Homo sapiens: one gene and its partners. The protein of the gene in region 1 purifies or fractionates together with the protein of each later gene. This does not show direct contact. Each region holds a gene or a part of one and is shown in the gene's direction. Other genes may lie near its edges. The genes, in order: ZNF846, PPP2CB, SART3, IPO8, DDI2 and IPO7.

Region 1 (4,073 bases):
AGCTCACTGCAACCTCAGTCTCCTAGGTTCAAGCAATTCTCCTGCCTCAGCCTCTCGAGTAGCTGGGATTACAGGCGCCCACCACCACACCCGGCTATTTTTTAAAAAATATTTTTAGTAGAGATGGGGTTTCGGCATGTTGGCCAGGCTGGTCTCGAACTCCTGAACTCACGTGTTCCACCCGCCTCGGCTTCCCAAAGTGCTGGGATTACAGGCGTGAGCCACTGCCCCCAGCCCCATCAGGTTAATCTTTCAAACAGGGTGTCGCTGGTCTCGAACTCCTGGGCTCAAGCGATTCTCCCGCAGTAGCTAGGACTACAGCGGGATTATCTTTGTAAATATGTTTATATCCCTGCAGAGGGTTGAAGAAACAAGGAGAAAATCCTGCAGAAAAGAATTTCCCTAGGGTGGTGGCTCACGCCTATAATCCCAGCACTTTGGGAGGCCAAGGTGGAAGGATCACTGGAGCCCAGGAGTTCCAGATCAGCCTGGGTAACAAAGAGAGACCCTGTCTCTACAAAAAAATAAAAATAAAATAAAAATAAATTAGCCAGGCGTGGTGGCACACACCTGTGGTCCAAGCTGCTTGGGAGGCCGAGGGGGGAGGATCCTTTAGGCTCAGGAGTTCGAGACCAGCCTAGGGAACACAGTGAGACCCAAGTGTCTAGAAAAAGATAACTTAGCTGGGCGTGATGGGCCCAACTGTGGTCCAAGCTACTCCGGAGGCCGAGGCGGGAGGATAGCTTCAGCGCAGGAATTCCAGGCTGCAATGATCTATGACCGAGCCACTGCACTCCAGCCTAGGCGACAGACCGGAGCCTTATCTCAAAAAACTAAAAAGAGAAATTAAAAAAGAAAAGAAAAGCACTCGATGAGCATCCCGCTGTCTGCAATCGAAGCCTTAGGTGACGCCTCCACGCGTGCCCCGCCCGCTGCGCCAGTCCCCGCCTCCAACCCGGCCCTTGGCGCTGGGTTTCCTGGTCCGGCGTCGTTCCCAATATCGACAGATTGATCTGGATCCTGGTCCACCTGGGATGCGAGAAAACGGGACTTTTCTGTACGCGTGTCGAAGAGGTGGCCCCAGCTCTTCTCTCAGCTTCACATCATCCTCATTCCAAAGCTCTTGGGGCTCGGCCCCTACACTTAATGCCGTGCGCAACCGGAAGCGGAAGTGCCAGCCGGCGCGCAGCTATACGTATTCCCCGCTCTCCAGCAGCTTCCTAGCTGGGTTTTCACCTCAGCCAGCGCTCATGCTCAACCTAGGCAGGGCGGGGCAGGAGGGCCTAGCGGGAGGCGGAGCGAGGGTCGGAGGGTGACGCTCCGGACTTCTGCTAGGTCTGAGACGCGCCGGCCTCCCGCTGCTGCTCCGGAGAAGCGGCGCCTCCTCCCCGCCAGGACCCCGAGGCGGGGGGTTCCCGCCTTCTCTTCTGAGCGCCTCTTCCCGCTGCGCCCGCATCAGTCTGGGCCTGGCCCAGGGTCCCCGGTGGAGACGTGTTTTTTTCTCCAACCACCGTGCCCCTCTGTTTAAAAGCAGCCAGTCAACCTTTGTGTCCTTTCTCCAGAAGGAAAAGCATCTCAGCTGTTGTGGAAAAGGGCCCCAGCGTCCTCTTGTCACCGACAGGGCGATTGCAGTGCGTTCCGGTGAGCCCTGGACGGAGGAGATGATCTGGCTGTGGGAGGGCATCGCTTATTGAAGTTTGCGAAATTGCTCAGCAGTTAAATGCTTTGTCAAGTGTGCAGGAGTTGTAGGTTTATAGAAATAAAAGCAAATATTGCCACAGTTATAAAGCAAAGTAGCAATACTCCGCTGTGTTTTTGAGATCAAAAGCAGCTGAACTTCCTAGGTCAGTACCTCCCAAAGAGCTTCAAAACGGAGGGGCTTCCAGGAAGTAGGATGCCGCCTTCATTATACCAGTATCAGAAATTACAGTTGTATTAACTGTGAAAGAGACATGTTTTGATTCAGCGTTTTTCCTCTCGTATATATACATATTTTGAGACGGAGTTTCGCTCTTATTGCCCAGGCTGGAGTGCAATGGCGTGATATAGGCTCACTGTAAACTCTGTCTCCCGGTCCAAGCGATTCTCCTGCCTCAGCATGCTGAGTAACTGGGATTACAGGCATGTGCCACCACGCCCGGCTAATTTTGCATTTTTAGTAGAGACGGGGTTTCACCATGTTGGTTGGGCTGGTCTCGAACTCCTGACCTCGTGATCCACCCTCCTCGGACTCCCAAAGTGCTGGAATTACAGGTATAAGCCACCGCGCCTGGCCTTCCCCCTCATATATTTTTATTTATTTATTTACGTTTTAAAGACAGGGTCTTGGTTTGTTGCCCAGGCTATCTGTAGATTGAATATTCTAAACCAAAGAAAATGTGAAAGGCCAGAATATTGAACACCTATTATATATCCTTGTTGTAGACTGATCATTTGTTAATATTTTGCATGTTTTCTGTTTCTTTGCATCTCTTGTGTAGATCAATGTGTATTGGCCGGGTGCGGTAACTTAAACACCTGTAATCCTGGCACTTTGGGAGGCCGAGGTGGGCGGTTCACCTGAGGTTGGGAGTTCCAGACCAGCCCGACCAACATGGAGAAACCCTGTCTCTACTAAAAATACAAAATTAGCCAGGTGTGGTGGGGCATGCCTGTAATCTTAGCTACTCGGGAGGCTGAGGCAGGAGAATCGCTTGAACCCGGGAGGCAGAGGTTGTGGTGAGCTGAGATCGTGGCAATGCACTACAGCCTGGGCAACAAGAGCAAAACACCGTCTAAATAAATAAATAAATAAATAAAACTAGGCCGGGCACAGTGGCTCACCCCTGTAATCCCAGCACTTTGGGAAGCAGAAGCAGGAGGAGCCACTGAAGCTATGAGTTTGAGACAAGCTGGGACAACATAGTGAGACCCCATCTCTACAAAAAAAAAAATAAATAAATAAAAGCATAACTAAAGTCAGTGACAATATCAAGTCTTCTTTAAGATGTGCATGCATTGCTGAAGAGAACACTTTTTTTTTTTTTTTTTTGAGACAGAGTCTTGCTCTGTTGCCAGGCTGGAGTGCAGTGGCATGATCTCGGCTCACTGCAACCTCCACCTCCCGGGTTCAAGTGCTTCTCCTGCCTTGGCCTCCCGAGTAGCTGGAACTACAGGTGCATGCCACCATGCCCAGCTAATTTTTGTATTTTTAGTAGAGATGGGGTTTCACCATGTTGGCCAGGATGGGTTTCACCATGTTGGCCAGGATGGTCTCCATCTCTTGACCTTGTGATCCACTCACCTCGGCCTCCCAAAGTGCTGGGATTACAGGCGTGAGCCACCATGCCCAGCTACATTTTAAAACAGTGACAACTAAATATGGACTTGGTGATGCAACATGCATACGTGTGCCAGGCTAAATGTAAAAGTTATTTATCACATTATTTGAAATAGCCTAAATTAGGAACAACCCAAATGTGGATCCACAGAATGGGTGAATTGTGGCATATTTCTGTGGCTTTTTTTTTTTTTTTTTGTGACAGAGTCTTGCTCTGTCACCAGGCTGGAGTGCAGTGGCGCAATCTTGGCTCACTGTAATTTCTGTCTTCCTGGTTCAAGTGATTCTCTTGCCTTAGCCTCCCGAGTAGCTGGGATTACAGGTGTGAGCCACCCATTTTTCTTTGTATTTTTAGTAGAGATGGGGTTTCACCATGTTGACCAGGCTGATCTTGAACTGCTGACCTCAAGCGATCTGCCCACCTCGGCCTCCCAAAGTGCCGGGATTACAGGCGTGAGCCACCATGCCCAGCCTCTGTGGCATATTCTTCAGCAAAGATATGAACCAAATCACAGGTGGATGAACACAACAACTTGGGTGCACCTCACCAGCATAATGCTGACTGAAAGAAGCCAGACACAAAAGTATTCTTACTGTCTGATAGTTGCTAGGCAAAGTCAACTAGAGTATTTTTTCTTTTATTCTTTGTTTTCATATATGTGTATATATATATATGTATATTTATTTGTTTATTTATTTATTTAATAAAGAGACTTGGTCTCACTATATTGCCCAGGATGGTCTCTAACTCCTG
Region 2 (3,821 bases), on another chromosome or scaffold:
GAATTCCAGAGCTACTGCAATATGTTATCTATAATGTCCAATTTTTCAACCACAGATTATAAGACATGGAAAGAACAAGGAAGTGTGACCTCTACACAGGAAAAAACTAAGCAACAGAAACTGTTTCTCTTGGATAGAACAACTAGGCAGGAGATGAAGGCAGGAGAAGACTTGAGCAACACTGTAAACTGACTGTATACCTCATGTCTGTAAAACAACACCCAACAACAGCAGAATACTTTCCTCTCAAGTAAACATGAAACATAGTCATATGCTAGACTGTAAAACATGCCTCAGGCAATTTAAGAAGATTAGATTCTTAAAAGGATATTCTCCAAACACAAGGAAATGAAATTAGAAATCATTAACATGGCTGGATGCTGTGGCTCACACAAGTAATCCCAACACTTTGGGAAGCCAAAGTAGGAGGATCACTTGAGGCCAGCCTGGGCAACATAGGGAGACCCCGTCTCTACAAAAAAATTTAAAAATTAGCCAGGTATGGTGCCAAGCACCTGTAGTCTCAGCTGTATGGGAGGCTGAGATGGAGGATCACTTGAGCCCAGTTGATCAAGGCTGCAATGAGCTATGATCACAGCACTACACTACAGCCTAGGCAACAGAGCAAAGACCCTGTCTCAGAAAGAAAAAAACAAAAAAAAAAACAAGAAGATTTGAAATCAGTAACCTATCTTTATACTTGAGGACCTAGAAAAAGCAGAGTAAACTAAACCTGATGTAAGCTTATGAAACGAGGTTTAGAGTAGAAATAAACAAACAGTAGAAAATCATTACAGAAAAATCAACAAAACCCAAAGTTGATGCTTTGAAAAGCCTTAACTAGACTGGCCAAGAAAAAAAGGAGTAAAGACTCACATTACCAAATCACTAGAGACCTTACTGAAATAAAAAGGATTATAAGGGAATACAATAAATAACTATATGCCAGCAAATTCAGTAACTTTGATAAAACGTACTAATTCCTAAAAAGAAACTACTGAAACTGACTCAAGAAATATGAAATCTGAATGACCTTTCAAATGTGAAAATATTGAGCCAGCATGGTGGCTCACACCTATAAATCCCAGCTTTGGGAGGCCAAGCTGAGAGGATTGCTTGAGACTAGGAGTTTGAGACCAGCCTGGACAACATAGCAGGACCTTGTCCCTATTTAATTTAAAAGAATATAAATAAATGAGTGAAAAAGTTAAAACTCCCCACAAATAAAAGGCCAAGCCCAATTGGCTTCATTGATGAAGTCCACCAAATGTTTAAAGAAAGGAATTGGCCAGGTGCGGTGGCTCTAACCAGTAATCCTAGCACTTTGGGAAGCCAAGGCAGGCAGATTGAGCCCAGGATTCAAGATCAGCCTGGGTAACATGGTAAAACCCTGTATCTACAAAGAATACAAAAATTAACCTGGTGTGGTGGCTCAGCCTATAGTCTCAGCTACTCAGGAAGCTGAAGTGGGAGGATCACCTGAGCCCAGGGAGGTTGAGGCTACAGTGAGCCATGATCACACCACTGCACTCCAGCTTGGGCAACAGAGTGAGACCCTGTCTCAAAAATAAAAACGAGTTAATGCCAATCCTTCACAAACACTTCCAAAAAACAGAAGAGGAGGACTACTGCATTCATTCTGTCACACCTGCACTATTATCCTTGATACCAAAAGTAGACAAAGGCAAAAACAGACCAGCATTTGTTACGAATACAGATATAAAATTTTCCAACATACGTACCAGCAACCTGGATCTAGCAATATGTAAAAAGATTATACACCATGAGCAAGTGGGATTTATCCCAGGAATGCTAGGTTGGTTCAAAACATGAAAATCAATATAATAAACCATATTAATATTAAGGGATTAAAAAACACATGATCATCTCAATAGAGGCACAAAAATAATTGGAAAAATCCACTAGCCAGAAACACTCAAGAAAATAGTGATATTAGGCCTGGCGCGGTGGCTCACGCCTGTAATCCCAGCACTTTGGGAGGCCGAAGCGGGTGGATCATGAGGTCAGGAGATGAGACCATCCTGGCTAACACGGTGAAACCCCGTCTCTACTAAAAAAAAATAAGAAAATTAGCCGGGCATGGTAATGGGTTCCTGTAGTCCCAGCTACTCAGGAGGCTGAGGCAGGAGAATGGTATGAACCCAGGAGGCGGAGCTTGCAATAAGCCGAGATCGTGCCAGTGCACTCCAGCCTGGGCGACAGAGCAAGACTCTGCCTCAAAAAAAAAAAAAAAAAAAGTGATATTATTATTATTATTAAATAATATTAAACAATTATTGTTTAATTATTTAAACTTGATATTATTTAATCTTTAATTATTTAAGCTTTTAAATAATAATAACATTTAGAAATTGTTATGCCAGGCACCAAACCAGACATTCTGTCTTCTTAAATTTTCACCATAGCCCTATGAAGCAGTTAGTTGGAATGGGAGCATCTGCAGTGATTTGCCCATGGCCATTCCAGCCGTAAGTGATGTAGTCATGGTGGGAAAGCAGGACTGCTGTTTCTACTACAGTGTCTTGTTCTTTATTCATTTGTTTTCTTTGCAAAGTCAGATCCTTTATTTGCTTCCTTTTTTGCCATTTACAGCCTTCAATTTGACCCAGCGCCTCGTCGTGGTGAGCCTCATGTTACACGGCGCACCCCAGACTACTTCCTATAAATTTCTCCTGGGAAACCTGCCTTTGTATGTGGAAGTATACCTGGCTTTTTAAAATATATGTATTTAAAAACAAAAAGCAACAGTAATCTATGTGTTTCTGTAACAAATTGGGATCTGTCTTGGCATTAAACCACATCATGGACCAAATGTGCCATACTAATGATGAGCATTTAGCACAATTTGAGACTGAAATTTAGTACACTATGTTCTAGGTCAGTCTAACAGTTTGCCTGCTGTATTTATAGTAACCATTTTCCTTTGGACTGTTCAAGCAAAAAAGGTAACTAACTGCTTCATCTCCTTTTGCGCTTATTTGGAAATTTTAGTTATAGTGTTTAACTGGCATGGATTAATAGAGTTGGAGTTTTATTTTTAAGAAAAATTCACAAGCTAACTTCCACTAATCCATTATCCTTTATTTTATTGAAATGTATAATTAACTTAACTGAAGAAAAGGTTCTTCTTGGGAGTATGTTGTCATAACATTTAAAGAGATTTCCCTTCATTTAAACTAAATTACTGTTTTATGTTGATCTGCATATTTCTGTATATTTGTCATGACAGTGCTTGCATCCTATTTGGTGTACTCAGCAAATAAACTTTTCATTTTAAACAAAAACATTCATTTATTGTGTTGTGCATTAAATGAAAACTTTATTTTTTCTAGACCAGGTCTTGCTCTGTCATCTGGGCTGGAGTGCAGTGGCACAGTCATAGCTCACTTCAACCTTGAACTCCTGAGCCCAAGCCATTCTCCTCCCTCAGCCTCCTGAGTAGCTGGGACTACACTCAACATACCACCACACCCAGCTAATTTGTAAAATATTTTGTAGAGACGGGATCTTGTTATGTTGCCCAGGCTGGTCTTGAACTCCTGGCCTCAAGTGGCCCTGCCAAATTCTTGAGATTATAGATGTGTGCCATCACACCTGGCCTGCTATCTTGAAACGACATAAAATCTTTCAAAGCAGGGCAATGGGACATGGCTATAGTCCCAGCTACTCAGGAGGCTGAGGTGGAGGATGGCTTGAACCCAAGAGCTTGAGGGCAGCCTGGGCAACATAGCAAGATGTCATCTCTAAAAAATAAAAAATAGGCTGGGCATGGTGGCTCATGCCTGTAATCCCATTGCTTT
Region 3 (3,618 bases), on another chromosome or scaffold:
CATATTTCATCCTATAGTATTAAAAAATCGTATTTGTTCATATCTGTATTGATCTTAGTTGAAAAGTATTTTAAGTAGGAAGCTGTCAGACTTGTGGTGGCAGATACAAGTTTTCCAAAATTCTAATTTTCACTTGAAAGCTTGAATTCTATCACATGCAACAAATAATGTCAGTGGTTTTCCCCAGAGTGGCAGCCTCACTTTGTTAATTTTCAAAAATGTCTGCCAAATACCCAGGTCTGAGTAACTGACCGTGGTTTGTCACTCAAGTTTCCTTTCAAGTAAAAATGGTGTCCTTGAAAAAAATGACTTGATTAGCTTGCAACTCAAACAGTAATATGCTTTTTTTTTTTTTTTTGGCAATAACCATTGTACTTCAGTATGCAGAAGGGCTTTAAGTGTACTTAGTATTTCATCACACAGTGCATTAAAAAGATTTCTACTGCCTTGATTTGTGCTAAGGGCCACCATTACTTGTGCACTGTCTTGAAGATGTCAACACAGTGAAAAAGTCCAGTAATGTCTTGGTATTATTATAAAAGGAGTTTTGACTTTGCAGGGCCCCTGAGAGGCTCTGGGAGATCCTCAGGGGTACGTGGATCTTACTTTGAGAACCAGTGCTCTGAATTTATTCTGAGCATCATAATATGTATATATAATTATGTATATTTAAAATGTTTTAAAAACAAATATGAATACACTGTTGCATAACAGTTATGATTAGCAGAATTGTGTAGCTGTTGTGATTAGCAGTGTACAAAAAGGATCTGTTTGCGACCAGCCTTGCCAACCTGGTGAAAACCTGTCTCTATTAGAAATACAAAAATTAGCTGGGTGTAGTGGTGGGCACCTGTAATCCCAGCTACTCAGGAGGCTGAAGCAGGAGAATTGCCTGAACCTGGGAGACAGAGGTTGGAGTGAGCCGAGATCGTGCTATTGCACTCCCACCTGGGTGACAAGAGCGAGACTCCCTTTCAAAAAAAAAAAAAAGATCTGACTCTGGGTATGAAATTTGACACTACCCTGGATTCATAACTCTCCTGTCAGTAGGACGCCATAGTAAAATTTCCCTGGGGACTGTATCAGGTTACAGAGAGCTGTTGGACTCCCCCGCCATGTGCCGCACATGTGAATGCTGTAAAGGCAGAATGCTGGTTGCAGATCACAATATCAGGTACACTTTCCAGTAGCCCCTACATGGCTGAGGGAGAGAGTGCTTCAGGGAAATACTTCGTAGGTGACTGTAGAGACTCTGGAAGGAGAAAGCATCATGGATAGATCTGAAAGCTAAGGTCTTCTCAGAAGCTAGAGTTACTGAAGAGTGAGTTTCTACCTGGGAGAAGACGGCCTCTCCCTTCGAGTGCCTTCCACTTTGTGTCCTGGTGGCAGCAACTTTTTGTTTTCTGCCTTAGAGCTCATGGTGACACCCAGCACTGCCGGAAGGCTCTGCACCGGGCCGTCCAGTGCACCAGTGACTACCCAGAGCACGTCTGCGAAGTGTTACTCACCATGGAGAGGACAGAAGGTGGGACCCCCAGCTCTCTTCTGGCTTGGAGCCTAACCCATTTGCTGTTTGGTCTCAAGTAGGAGCATCTGGTTACAGTCTGGGGACAGACTGTGTTTATGCTGCCACCTTAGGTGGTGCCCTATGATTAGACTGTCACAAGTGTCCTGAAAATGAGTCCTCCTGCAGCTCTTCTCAAATTCTGCAGCTACAAGGAGGACTCTGTGATGTCACTGTAGCACAGGGTTCTAATTCTCTGTGGGGGGGACTGTGCGTTATACAATGTTTAGGGGCATCCCTGGCTTCTAGCCCTGAAATGCCAGTAGCAGCTTCACCACCACAACCAAACATGACAACCAGAAATGTCTCTTAACATTGCCAAATGTCTCTTGATGGGCAGGATCCCTCCTTTGAGAGTCACTGTGCTCTAGTACAACATCTATCCAACAAAGGAGCTTGGAGAGGCAAATGGCTCAATGTGTCCTTTGCATCCCTTGTTAAATTTCAGAGCCTTCAGTGTTAGCTAGAACCAATAGAAAAATAATGTGAACTTATCTGTGGGTATTGGTCTGGATTTTGGGTATGGACCCCTCAGAACTGGCTTGCAAAGACCACCAAAAAATAAGAAATAAATGCCTCAACATTTGAGTAGCTCTTAAAATTCTTCAGTCTTAATATAAATGTACTTTTGCATTAGAACGTTCGTTTTCATATTCTTTGCCATTTAGAGCCCTTAATAGATCATATTCTGGTTTTCAAGTCTCTCCTGAAAGGAGAGGGACATTTTAAACCCACTTAGAAGGACTATTTGAATTCTGAACTTCAAGCCTACAGGGATTACATTTTCTTATTGTTTGATGGGAGAGATCTCTTCTGGAGGTACAGAGAAATTAAGAAAAATTTATGTGATTGTATCCTTCAAAATCCTAAAGAGTGAAAGTTTTGCTTCTCTTTCTTTCAAGGTTCTTTAGAAGATTGGGATATAGCTGTTCAGAAAACTGAAACCCGATTAGCTCGTGTCAATGAGCAGAGAATGAAGGTAATGACAATGTTTGAAGTCTTTGGCACCTCTGGTAGCTATTTTGGCTCAGTTTGGTATGGATGTTTCTTGTCAAGATGTTTTACATTTTCCTAAGTGTCTTTTACTCAGTATTAATTATAAAATATTTAGATCAATGCTTAAACCTGTCTTGTGTCATTTTTACATTGTTCTAAAACATCAGCCCCAATATTAAGTACTTGTTTCATTTAGTGAGGGAATTTTGGCTCTAAAATTTACGAGAATTGATGAAAAAGAATAAAGAAGAGCCTCACTTAGCCTAGTGAGTGGAACATGAACACCCCAACTTATTTAGGGCTTCAGTTTTATGGATTTTTTTTTTTTTGAGACGGAGTCTCGCTCTGTTGCCCAGGCTGGAGTGCAGTGGCATGATCTCGGCTCACTGCAAGCTCTGCCTCCCGGGTTCACGCCATTCTTCTGCCTCAGCTTCTCGAGTAGCTGGGACTACAGGTGCCCGCTACCACACCTAGCTAATTTTTTGTATTTTTTTAGTAGAGATGGGGTTTCACCATGTTAGCTAGGATGGTCTCGATCTCCTGACCTCGTGATCCACCCATCTCGGCCTCCCAAAGTGCTGGGATTACAGGCGTGAGCCACCGCGCCCGGCCAGTTTTATGGATTTTTTTGCCTTCCTTTTGGTGAGTAATGATTAGGGTGAGGAAATTGCTAATGTAACAGAGACATCAGATCCAGAATTCCAACGAACCTGAATGAGCCCTGGTGTGGAACAGCCGTGAGCCTGTCCACGTTTTTCTCCTGATCTCTGCTTTTCATTAGTAATGAATTTCCACTCCTTCTCCCCTTTCATGACAAATCAGTACAGTGAATGTAATTGCCACATCCAGCGATGCATCATCTTCCCACTTTTCTAGGCTGCAGAGAAGGAAGCAGCCCTTGTGCAGCAAGAAGAAGAAAAGGCTGAACAACGGAAAAGAGCTCGGGCTGAGAAGAAAGCGTTAAAAAAGAAGAAAAAGATCAGAGGCCCAGAGAAGCGCGGAGCAGATGAGGATGATGAGAAAGAGTGGGGCGATGATGAAGAAGGTAAGGAGCTCTT
Region 4 (3,618 bases), on another chromosome or scaffold:
GGTATAGTGCTTTGACTACCCAATTTAGTTTTTTTTTTTTTTTTTTTTGACAGAGTCTTGCTCTGTTGCCCTGGCTGCAGTGCTGTGGCATGATCTCAGCTCACTGCAACCTCCGCCTCCTGGGTTCAAGGAATTTGCTGGAATTACAGGTACCTGCCACCATGCTTGGCTAATTTTGGTATTTTTAGTAGAGACGGGGTTTCACCATGTTGGCCAGGGTGGTCTCGAACTCCTGACCTCAGGTGATCCGCCCGCCTCGGCCTCCCAAAGTGCTGGGATTACAGGTGTGAGTCACTGCTCCGGGTCATGAATTTAGTTATATGTTAAAAGTTGGGTGAAGAAAGAGTTGGGTGGGGAAAGAAGAGAAGCTTAAGGGAAGAAAGTTATGCTGCTTTGCAAATCACGTATCTGTATTCTTTACACACACACACACACACACACACACACAACATTATAAGTATTTACTTACATTCACTGTTCAACTGGGATGGTTAGAAAGCTTTACATTCTGGCCAGGTGCAGTGGCTCACACCTGTAATCCTAGCACTTTGGGAGGCCGAGGCAGGCAGATCACCTGAGGTCAGGTGTTCGAGACCAACCTGGCCAACATGGTGAAATCTTGTCTAACTAAAAATACAAAAATTAGCTGGGTGTGGTGGCACATGCCTGTAATCCCAGGTATTTGGGAGGCTGAGGCAGGATAATCGTTTGAACCCGGGAGACAGAGGTTGCAGTGAGCCAAGATCTTGCCACTGCACTCTAGCCTGGATGACAGAGAAAGATTCCGTCTCAAAAAAAAAAAAAAGAAAAGAAAAGCTTCACATTCTTTCTTAAAATGCTGTAGCAATATGTCAGCCTGTTTCTTTCAGAAGCCTTTTGTTAAAGGTTGAAGACGATTAAAAAGAACAGAACAAAATCAGATTATGTATTTTGATAGATGTGAACATATAAAAATTTTCTGAGCTTTTTTCCAAAAATTTTTGATGGCTGATGTTCATTTCCCTATTATATTTACAAGTAGTACATATTTCAAAAAGGTTGGATGAAAATTACCAATACTATAAAAAGAAGAGATACCCCAAAATGCTAGTGTTTGACAGTAGCCAGTGGGAAAACAAAAAACAAAAAAAGCCATCTTCATGAAGGAAAGTAGAACTTTACCTGTTGTCACCTCAGAATTAGGCATTGCGAAAAGTATGATTTTATGATCTCAAAGTATGTTTACTATGCATTATTTCTAGATAATTTTCCTGTCCTGTAAGCTCTGGGTCTTGACTTAATGAAATGTTTTCTGCTTAGACTAGCTGAAGTGAAACCTTTAAATTCTTATCCACTTTCCCTTCCTGATTTGGCTGTTTATACCTGTAAGAGTATCCATTTTTGCTGGGTTTCATGTTTAACATTGAAGGGTTTGGACTTTCATGCTCTGTAAGGCTGAATTAAAGCCATCCTTTTTGGTACTGCTACATTAGCATTTTTTCTCAAACTCAGCTGCCATTTACCTGAAGAACATGGTGACACAATACTGGCCAGATCGAGAACCTCCACCAGGAGAAGCAATATTTCCATTCAACATTCACGAAAACGATCGCCAGCAAATACGTGATAACATTGTGGAAGGAATAATTCGGTCTCCAGATTTAGTGAGGTATGTGGTGCTATATATTTGTGATTACTAGAAAGCATGAAATGGTTAGATCTGAGGGTGGGTGCTGTTGGATCTAATCCTTGGCCTCATGTTTCATTTTCTAAAGAGGTAAAGTAATAAAGAGGGACACTCAAAGAATATTATTTTACTTAGTGGTCTTTGCATTTGTAATTCTTTGCCTCAAGATATTTTGGAAAAGATTTTGTTGTCGTATGTTGCCACAAAAAGAGGTAAGATTTAAAAAAAATGATACTTAACCAAAACAATTGTGTAAGTCTTGCTACTTAAATGACCTTTATTCTTAGTAATGATCTCTTGAGTTTTTTTACTACCTGCTTTTCTTTTCTTTGATACAGAGAGACTGATTCTGGGAATTTTTACCTACTACCTGTCTTAATCTTTCCCTGTATTTTTATTCACATTTATGAATTGAGCATGTTTTCCTTCAGAGAAGACAGGATAGAGTAGGTATAAACTAGAAGAACTGTCTCCAGTTTTTTACAGTCATAGATTAGATGCTGTAGAGCAGTAGTGTCCCTCAGAACTTTCTGCAGTGACAGTGTTCTGTGTCAGTGCTATCTAATATTAGCCACAAGGCATCAATGACTGTTGAGCACTTGAAATGTTGCTAGTTGTAACTGAGGAACTGAATTTTTAATTCTATTTACTTTTGATTCATTTAAAGTGTGCATATTTAACTAGCAGCTGCTCTATTGGACAGAGCAGCTGTAAAGTCATAAAAATTTTGCAATCTTAAAATAGGAGAAACAAATTCTTTTCAACATACAAGATAGTAATTAGGTATCTTTTGAAAATGGGAGGGACAAATAGGTGAAAACAGAGGTAGAGGAATGAAATTTTTTAATATCAAGAGGTTGAATATAACGTTAGCCCTTAGTATCTAATAGCCATCATGACATAAGCAGTGGAAAAGGAAGGAAGTACGACGGGTAACAGGAAGGAGAACAAACATTGAACTCTTAGAGCAATTAATTTGTTAAGAGGAGAAAATAGGTGTACTGGTTAAAAAGAAAAAATCACTATTATTCTTATTGGTTGCCCAAATGCCAGTCATGGGACTGATACCCCTGTGGTACCATCATGTATCCATTTATTTTCAAAATCTTAAATTTTCAGATCTCCCTTAATCTTCGAGTGGTTCTACACAGTAATGCATGAAGGATGGCCTTTCATAACCATCCTTTGCTTGGAATGAGAAAGGACTGGGAGAATCAACCTGAAGATGAAATTTTAAAAAATGAAAAGCTTCAGTTTTATTTTTTACAAATATGACATTTATTGTTTAAAGGAGCAGCTACTACTGGCACTAAAGGAGATCTTTTATCTTTATTACGGGACGGTTCTCTGTGGCTTTGCTCCTTTTATGTCCTTAAGGCTTAATTATAATCATTGTTGAAATTTCTTCCACCTATTCTCAAAGTTTAAGAGTATTACAAAGGGATTTTTCAAATAGATTTGATAACGTGAAGAAAAGGCATCATTTTGTTTAATTTTACCAGTTTAAGTGAATCTGAGTTACTGGTTGTTCAACTGAAAATGCTTTATTTTTTTTTTAGTTGCCCTGTGGAATCCTAATTTTGCCAAGTTTGTTTTCTAACCATTTGAAAATGTCATGTAAGGTCATATTTGGTGATAACATTGAATTGATAGTTTATAGAAAAGAAATTTTTCCCCCTATTTTCTTTTCAGTTCCAGTTAAAGTTGAAATCTCATTGAGGAAATGATTACTTATCTATGTTATCAGATAACTTATTTTAGCATTTAACTTTGTGGTTTTATTAAAGGAATATTTTCTTTTTCTGTTTTATGTCTCTTCTGTTGCCTTTTTCATTTATTTCTTTGGAAATAGCTCTTAGCTCTCCTCTTCAGGAATTGCCTCGCTAATAATACATGTTTCTTTCTTATACTTGGGGTACAAAAATTAGTATCTCAGACTGCTTTGGATAGAT
Region 5 (3,618 bases), on another chromosome or scaffold:
TTATTGATGGGTAAGCCCGGGAAGTGTGGGCTTCAGAAGGGGTAGGAACCTTTCCAGTTTTTAATTAGTCTCATGGTCCAGTAGTAGATGTGTTCATTATTTGTCTTCTTAACCTCCTTCTTTGATCTTCCTTTTTTTTTTTTTTTTTTTTTTTTGGAGACATTGTCTCACTCTGTCACCCAGGTTGGAGTGCAGTGTGCAGTGTGACATGATTGTAGTTCACTGCACCCTTGACTTCCTGGGCTCAAGCAGTCCTCTCACCTCAGCCTCCTGAGTAGCTGGGACTACACCTGGCTAATTTTTTATTTTTAGCAGAGATAGGGTCTTGCTGTGTTGTCCAGGCCTATCTCCAACTCCTGGGCTCAAGCAGTCCTCCTGCCTTGGCCTCCCGAAGTGCTGGGATTACAGGTGTGAGCTACCATATCCAAACCCCATCTCTTAATACAATAATGAAAAAGTCTGTATTCTGGCCCGGCGTGGTGGCTCACGCCTGTTAATCCCAGCACTTTGGGAGGCTCCGGAGGGGGGGGGGGGGGGGCGGATCACCTGAGGTCAGGAGTTTGAGACCAGCCTGGTCATGGTGAAACCCCATCTCTACTAAAAATATAAAAATTGGCCAGGCGCGGTGGCTCACGCCTGTAATCCCAGCACTTTGGGAGGCTGAGGCAGGTGGATCACGAGGTCAGGAGATGGAGACCATCCTGGCTAACACGGTGAAACCCCGTCTCTACTAAATATACAAAAAATTAGCCGGGCGTAGTGGTAGGCGCCTGTATTCCCAGCTACTCAGGAGGCTGAGGCAGGAGAATGACATAAACCCAGGGGGCGGAGCTTGCAGTGAGCTGAGATCGCACCACTGCACTCCAGCCTGGGTAAGAGAGCGAGACTCCATCTCAAAAAAAAATAATAATAAAAATTAAAAAAAAATTAGCAGGGTGCAGTGGCACACCCCCCGTAACCCCAGTTACTTGGGAGGCTGAGGCAGGAGAATTGCTTGAACTTGGGAGGCGGAGGTTGCAGTGAGTCAAGATGGCACCACTGCACTCTAGCCTGGGCAACAGAGTGAGACACTATCTCATAAAAAAGAGAAACATTCTGTTTTTTAGTATTTCAACAGATTAAGAACAGCTCAGTCCATTGCTGTGTTTAAGATAGATTGGGGTTATTTTGCTTAGACACATTTTAGAAGCTTCCTAAATTTTTTTAGGAAGTTTTTTTTGGATGTTTTTGTTTTTGTGATTTTCCTAAAGAAAATTTTGACAGTAAGCAGATGTTAACTTTTGAGTCCAACAGTATTTCCCTATTTCTTTCCTTTTCTTAGGACTGTTTTATTTTATTTTATTTATTTTATTTTATTTTATTTATATAGACAGAGTCTTGCTCTGCTGCCCATGCTGGAGTGCAGTGGCGCAGCCATGGCTCACTGCAGCCTCAGTCTCAGTCTCACAGGCTCAAGCAGATCCTCTCGCCTCCGCCTCCCAAAGTATTACAGGCATGAGCCACCATGCCTCTTAGGCCTGGTTTATTTTGAAAAGTATCATTGCTACTGTGTGTGAGCAGCCCTAACTTCACCGAAGACAGAAGAACCAACAAAAAGAAGTATAAATTTTTATTTACTTAATTAAAAAAAAAATTTTTTTTTGAGACAAGGTCTTACTCTGTCACCCAGACTGATCCTCCCATCTCCCCTTCCTGACTAGCTATGACTACAGGTGCCTGCTACCATGTCCAGCTAATTTCTGTATTTTTTGTAAAGATGAGGTTTTGCCATGTTGCCCAGGCTGGTCTTGAACTCCTGGGCTCAAGCAATCCACCCGCCTCAGCCTCTCAAAATGACAGGATTATAGGAACGAGACACCATGCCTGACCAGCATAATTGAACGTTACTGAAAATGCAGTGTTATGGTGTGAGATTACAGTATTGTCATCAGGCCATATTAGCACTGTATATATTGAAATCATGCTACCTAATACTTTTTTCTAAGTCTCAGTTATTTAGCTTGTTTAAATGTAATGATGGAGCTAAGTTTTCTAGGTAAAATGGGGTAACAGTTTTGCTGAAATCCCCCATTTATTATAGAACGGTGACTCTGGGATGTATTTTCTAGAAGCTGAATAGAATTTACTTTTGAGTTTGGGTTATTTTACAGTCTTGTGCTGGCATTATTCATCAGTATGACTAGTATCACACATTGCTTTTTCTAGTACAGTAAATTATTAAGAGTTACAAGTTCAGGGAATAGCTTTATCCTAAAGACGAAAGTGGTAAGAGTTTTAAAAACAGCCAGGCAGCTTTTGCCACTGTTTTACTGGAGAACATTCAGATGTCTGTCATTGAGCTTTAGAATGGGTGTGGGTGGCAGATGGAGTTTTCCAGGTTGACTTTGTTCAGAATCAACTCCATCACCTTTTGGCTTAGTTTTATGTATAAAGTACAGTTTGAGTCAGGGCGTGGTGGCTTATGCCTGTGATCCCAGTACTTTGGTAGGCCAAGGCAGGACGACCACTTGAGCCTGGGAATTTGAAACCAGCCTGGGCAACATAGTGAGTCTTTGTTTCTACAAGAAATTTAAAAAAAAAATTAGCCAGCCATGGTGGCGCGCCTATGGTCTCAGCTGTTTGAGAGGCTGAGATGGGAGGATCACCTAAGCCCAGGAGGTCAAGGCTGCTGTGAGCCATCATCGCTGCCACTGCAATCCAGCCTGGGTGACAGAGTGAGATCCTGTGTCCAAAAAAAAAAAAAAAACAACAGAATTGACTCCCATCACTTTTTGGCTCAAGTTTTTATATTAACTACAGTTTTGGTTGTAACTTAAGTATTTTGTAGGAAGGGAGGAATTTTGAACAACCAGACAGAGACTAACTTAATAGTTTTAATCTTACCTGCAAGGTAAGCTTGAATGAATTTGACATAGCTCCTTACAAGGTTTTGCATTTGGGGTGTAATTTATCATCTTAGTCGTGATGCTGTGTGTTAATATGAGGATATATTATCATTTTATGAAATGTCTTTTTTTTTTTTTTCCTTTTAACCTCCACAGTCTTGGTGCCATTATTTAAGAAACATTAGCTGATAATAGCAGTGTTTTCTAACCTACTAATAACAGTTATCCTTTTTTGGTAATTACCTTATTTTAGTAAAAGTTTGGAAGATTAAAACAGATACACATATGTTTCCAGGCTTAGTGAAGGGGATGTACCAACTTCAAAGAATTAAAAAGAAATGGCTTTTTACCTAAATAACCTTTTGTTGCTGGTAGTATAGCTTGTGCTAATTTTTGTAATGTTTAAGTAATGAAATAATTCTACATATCAGGTCCTTTTTATTTAGAACATCGACTTCCTAATATCATCCGAATAAATACTCTGGACATAGTAGGTGAAAGTATTTTGTTAACAACTTCTTTCTGGCCAAGCATGGTGGCTCATGCCTGTGGTCCCAACACTTTGGGAGGCTGAGGTGGGGAGATCACTTGAACCTATGGATTTGAGACCAGCCTGGGCAGCATGGCAAAACACTTGTTTCTAAAAAAAAAAACCACGGCTGGGCGCAGTGACTCACGCCTGTAATCCCAACACTTTGGGAGGCTGAGGAAGGGTGGATCACCTGAGGTCAGA
Region 6 (3,618 bases), on another chromosome or scaffold:
GGTAAACTTTTGCTTAAGATTTTTTGGATAGCTTTAGTAATTAAATATCCATGGTCAGTTTTTTTGTTTGTTTGTTTTGTTTTGTTTGTTTTTTGTTTTTTGTTTTTTTTGAGTGAGAGTCTTGCTCTGTTGCCCAGACTGGAGTGCAGTGGCACATTCTCTGCTGACTGCAACCAGATTCAAGCAGTTCTCCTGCCTCAGCCTCCCAAGTAGCTGGGATTACAGGTATACACCACCACAACCGCCTGATTTTATATATATATATATATATATATATATTTTTTTTTTTTTTTTTTTTTTTTTTTTTTTTTTTGAGACGCTGTCTCGCCCTGTCGCCTAGGCTGGAGTGCAGTCGCGCAATCTCAGCTCACTGCAACCTCTGCCTCCCAGGTGCAAGCAGTTCTCTGCCTCTGCCTCCTGAGTAGATGGGATTATAGGTGCCTGCCACCACACCTGGCTAATTTTTTATATTTTTAGTAGAGAAGGAGTTTCGCCATTTTGGCCAGGCTGGTCTCAAACTCCTGACCTCAAGTGTTCTGCCCACCTCAGACTCCCAAAAGTGCTGGGATCGCAGGCATGAGCCACGTCACCCGGCCCACGGTCAATTTTAATAGGAACTTGTGAAGCCATGATTGATATCATCGTGAGCTTTTATTTATTTTTTATTTATTTCATATATTTTTTTGAGACAGAGTCTCGCTCTGTCGCTCAGGCTGGAGTGCAGTGGCGCGATCTCAGCTCACTGCCTCTGCCTCCCAGGTTCACGCCATTCTCCTTCCTCAGCCTCCCAAGTAGCTGGGACTACAGGCACCCGCCACCACGCCTGGCTAATTTTTTGTATTTTTAGTAGAGACGGGGTTTCACTGTGTTAGCCAGGATGGTCTTGATCTCCTGACCTCGTGATCCGCCTGCCTCAGCCTCCCAAAGTGCTGGGATTACAGGCGTGAGCCACCACTCCCGGCCCGTCGTGAGCTTTTAATAGCTCCATGAAGACTACTAGACTTTCTCTAAAATTAGATTTCCCAGTGCAGTGCCTCAGCAGTAAATATTGGTCATCTAATGCTACAATAGGGTTAATTGAGGCAACAAAGAAGTTAATATTTTTAGAATGTTTGCATGCTATTAATTATAGTCTTAGAATATCTTGCTATCTTTTTTTGTAGTGCATTCCCTTATTCGTGGAAGCAGCCTTAGAAAGACTGACAAGAGAGGTTAAGACAAGTGAACTTCGAACTATGTGTCTGCAAGTTGCAATTGCAGCTTTGTATTATAATCCACACCTACTACTCAATACCTTAGAAAATCTTCGCTTCCCTAATAATGTTGAACCAGTTACAAATCATTTTATTACACAGTGGCTTAATGATGTTGACTGTTTCTTGGGGTAAGTGATGTATTGCAATTTTACTACATTTGCTTTGGGAGGAACTCTGCTTATTTAAGAAAAGAAAACAGTTTTTTTTTTTTTTTTTTTTTTTTTTTTTTTTAGGCTTCATGACAGAAAGATGTGTGTTCTCGGACTCTGTGCTCTTATTGATATGGAACAGATACCCCAAGTTTTAAATCAGGTTTCTGGACAGATTTTGCCGGCTTTTATCCTTTTATTTAACGGATTGAAAAGAGCATATGCCTGCCATGCAGAACATGAGAATGACAGTGATGATGATGATGAAGCTGAAGATGATGATGAAACCGGTAAGGGATTTTCAATGGAAGAAGACAAAACTTATCTACTTAGAAATATTACCGCACTGGGCCGGGCGCAGTGGCTCAGGCCTGTAATCCCAGCACTTTGGGAGGCTGAGGCAGGTGGATCACACGGTCAGGAGTTCGAGACCAGCCTGGCCAGTATGGTGAAACCCCACCTCTACTAAAAATACAAAAATTAGCTGGGTGTAGTGGTGGGCACTTGTAGTCCCAGCTACTTGGGAGGCTGAGGCAGGAGAATCGCTTGAACCCATGAGGCGGAGGTTGCAGTGAGCCAAGATTGCATCACTGCACTCCAGCCTGGGTAACAGAACGAGACTCCATCTCAGATTAAAAAAAAATATATATATATATCACTAGCCCTTCTCCCAAATAAATGTGGGATCATACCCAAATGCTTTCATTCACAGAAAAGACTTCCTTTCTTCTCACTAGAGTGATGTAATCAGGAACTTCAGCTGTATTACCAACATGTAGAACAGTTCAAACCATTATAGTATGCAACCAACAAAGATTTGTTTATTTTACACATTCTCAGCACTGTAGATACAAAGATGAATGAGATGTCATGCAGTTCTTCAAAAGTTTTCTATCCGACTGTGGGAAAGTATTACAAAGCCAAATAATTATGTATATAATAATAGAGTTGACACGAAGTGCTGAGTCCACTTAAGAGCGAGAGATTATAGTTCCCTTTTTTATATGGTGGCATGAGCCTATAGTCCCAGCTACTTGGAAGTCTGAGGTATCAGATTCGCTTGAGCCCAGGAGTTTGATTCCAGCCTGGGTAACATAGTGAAACCCCAGTTTTTTGTTTTTTGGCTTTTTTTCCTTTGAGACGGAGTTTTGCTCCTGTTGCCCAGGCTGGAGTGCAACAGCGCGATCTTGGCTCACTGCAACATCTGCCTCCCGGGTTCAAGCAATTCTCCTGCCTCAGCCCCCCAGATAGCTGGGATTATAGGCACGTGCCACCATGCCCAGCTTATTTTTGTATTTTTAGTAGAGACAGGATTTCACCATGTTGGCCAGGCTGGTCTGGAACTCCTGACCTCAGATGATCCACCCTCCTGGGCCTCCCAAAGTGCTGGGATTACAGGCGTGAGCCACTGCACTGAGCCGTGAAACCCCATTTCTTTAAAAAAAGTTGTGGGGATTACATGAGGGAATCCTTGACGCTTAAATAGTGCTTGGCAGATGGCACTGAATTAACAGTATTAACAAAGGTACACATATCATTATAGTTACTATTACAAGATTTATGGGGGTTTTTTTTGTTTGTTTTTTTTTGTTGTTGTTGTTGAGACGGAATCTCGTTCTGTCGCCAAGCTGGAGTGCAATGGCAATCTTGGCTCACTGCAACCTCCGACTCCCGGGTTCAAGCGATTCTCCTGCCTCAGCCTCCCAAGTAGCTGGGATTACAGGCGTGTGCCACCACACCGGCTAATTTTTGTATTTTTAGTAGAGATGGGGTTTCACCGTGTTGGCCAGGGTGGTCTCAATCTCCTGACCTCATGATCTGCCTGCCTTGGCCTCCTAAAGTGTTGGGATTACAGGCGTGAGCCACCGCGCCCGGCGAATTATGGGGTTTTCATTTTATTTTTAAGCTTCTAAAGATTTATGGTCTTAATGTTGACTAAATTTATTGGAGACATCCATCCTATCATCTATTAATTCTAAAACCTAAGCATACTTGCACTATAACATTATGTTAATTAAATGTTGATAAATACATTTTATCTATAAGACTGTACACTATCAGTGTATAAATTGATAAAATATTAAGAGAAATTATTATAAGGGTTTCAACATAAGATAGCTATTGCTATTTTTGTCTTTTATCATTTACTAACTTAGCCAGCCTTTTAAAAAAAATCTTACAAAAGGTTTGGTGGGTGTAACGGTAGTGTGTTC

Evidence for each region.
Region 2: the proteins of ZNF846 (region 1) and PPP2CB purify together in Homo sapiens (co-immunoprecipitation; one large-scale study listed by IntAct). This does not show direct contact.
Region 3: the proteins of ZNF846 (region 1) and SART3 purify together in Homo sapiens (co-immunoprecipitation; one large-scale study listed by IntAct). This does not show direct contact.
Region 4: the proteins of ZNF846 (region 1) and IPO8 purify together in Homo sapiens (co-immunoprecipitation; one large-scale study listed by IntAct). This does not show direct contact.
Region 5: the proteins of ZNF846 (region 1) and DDI2 purify together in Homo sapiens (co-immunoprecipitation; one large-scale study listed by IntAct). This does not show direct contact.
Region 6: the proteins of ZNF846 (region 1) and IPO7 purify together in Homo sapiens (co-immunoprecipitation; one large-scale study listed by IntAct). This does not show direct contact.

The regions. Positions count from the first base shown.
Region 1 is NC_000019.10:9,765,857-9,769,929, reverse strand, and holds the start of ZNF846 (zinc finger protein 846), read left to right. Parts: upstream 1-1,191; 5' UTR 1,192-1,641; intron 1,642-4,073. UniProt on the Homo sapiens protein: May be involved in transcriptional regulation.
Region 2 is NC_000008.11:30,785,100-30,788,920, reverse strand, and holds the end of PPP2CB (serine/threonine-protein phosphatase 2A catalytic subunit beta isoform), read left to right. Parts: intron 1-2,613; coding exon 2,614-2,686; 3' UTR 2,687-3,305; downstream 3,306-3,821.
Region 3 is NC_000012.12:108,530,129-108,533,746, reverse strand, and holds part of SART3 (spliceosome associated factor 3, U4/U6 recycling protein), read left to right. Parts: intron 1-1,412; coding exon 1,413-1,525; intron 1,526-2,466; coding exon 2,467-2,543; intron 2,544-3,436; coding exon 3,437-3,605; intron 3,606-3,618. UniProt on the Homo sapiens protein: U6 snRNP-binding protein that functions as a recycling factor of the splicing machinery. Promotes the initial reassembly of U4 and U6 snRNPs following their ejection from the spliceosome during its maturation.
Region 4 is NC_000012.12:30,682,331-30,685,948, reverse strand, and holds part of IPO8 (importin-8), read left to right. Parts: intron 1-58; exon of another isoform or gene 59-149; intron 150-1,491; coding exon 1,492-1,648; intron 1,649-3,618. UniProt on the Homo sapiens protein: Involved in nuclear protein import, either by acting as autonomous nuclear transport receptor or as an adapter-like protein in association with the importin-beta subunit KPNB1.
Region 5 is NC_000001.11:15,651,928-15,655,545, forward strand, and holds part of DDI2 (protein DDI1 homolog 2), read left to right. Parts: intron 1-3,618. UniProt on the Homo sapiens protein: Aspartic protease that mediates the cleavage of NFE2L1/NRF1 at 'Leu-104', thereby promoting release of NFE2L1/NRF1 from the endoplasmic reticulum membrane.
Region 6 is NC_000011.10:9,436,591-9,440,208, forward strand, and holds part of IPO7 (importin-7), read left to right. Parts: intron 1-1,163; coding exon 1,164-1,384; intron 1,385-1,489; coding exon 1,490-1,695; intron 1,696-3,618. UniProt on the Homo sapiens protein: Functions in nuclear protein import, either by acting as autonomous nuclear transport receptor or as an adapter-like protein in association with the importin-beta subunit KPNB1.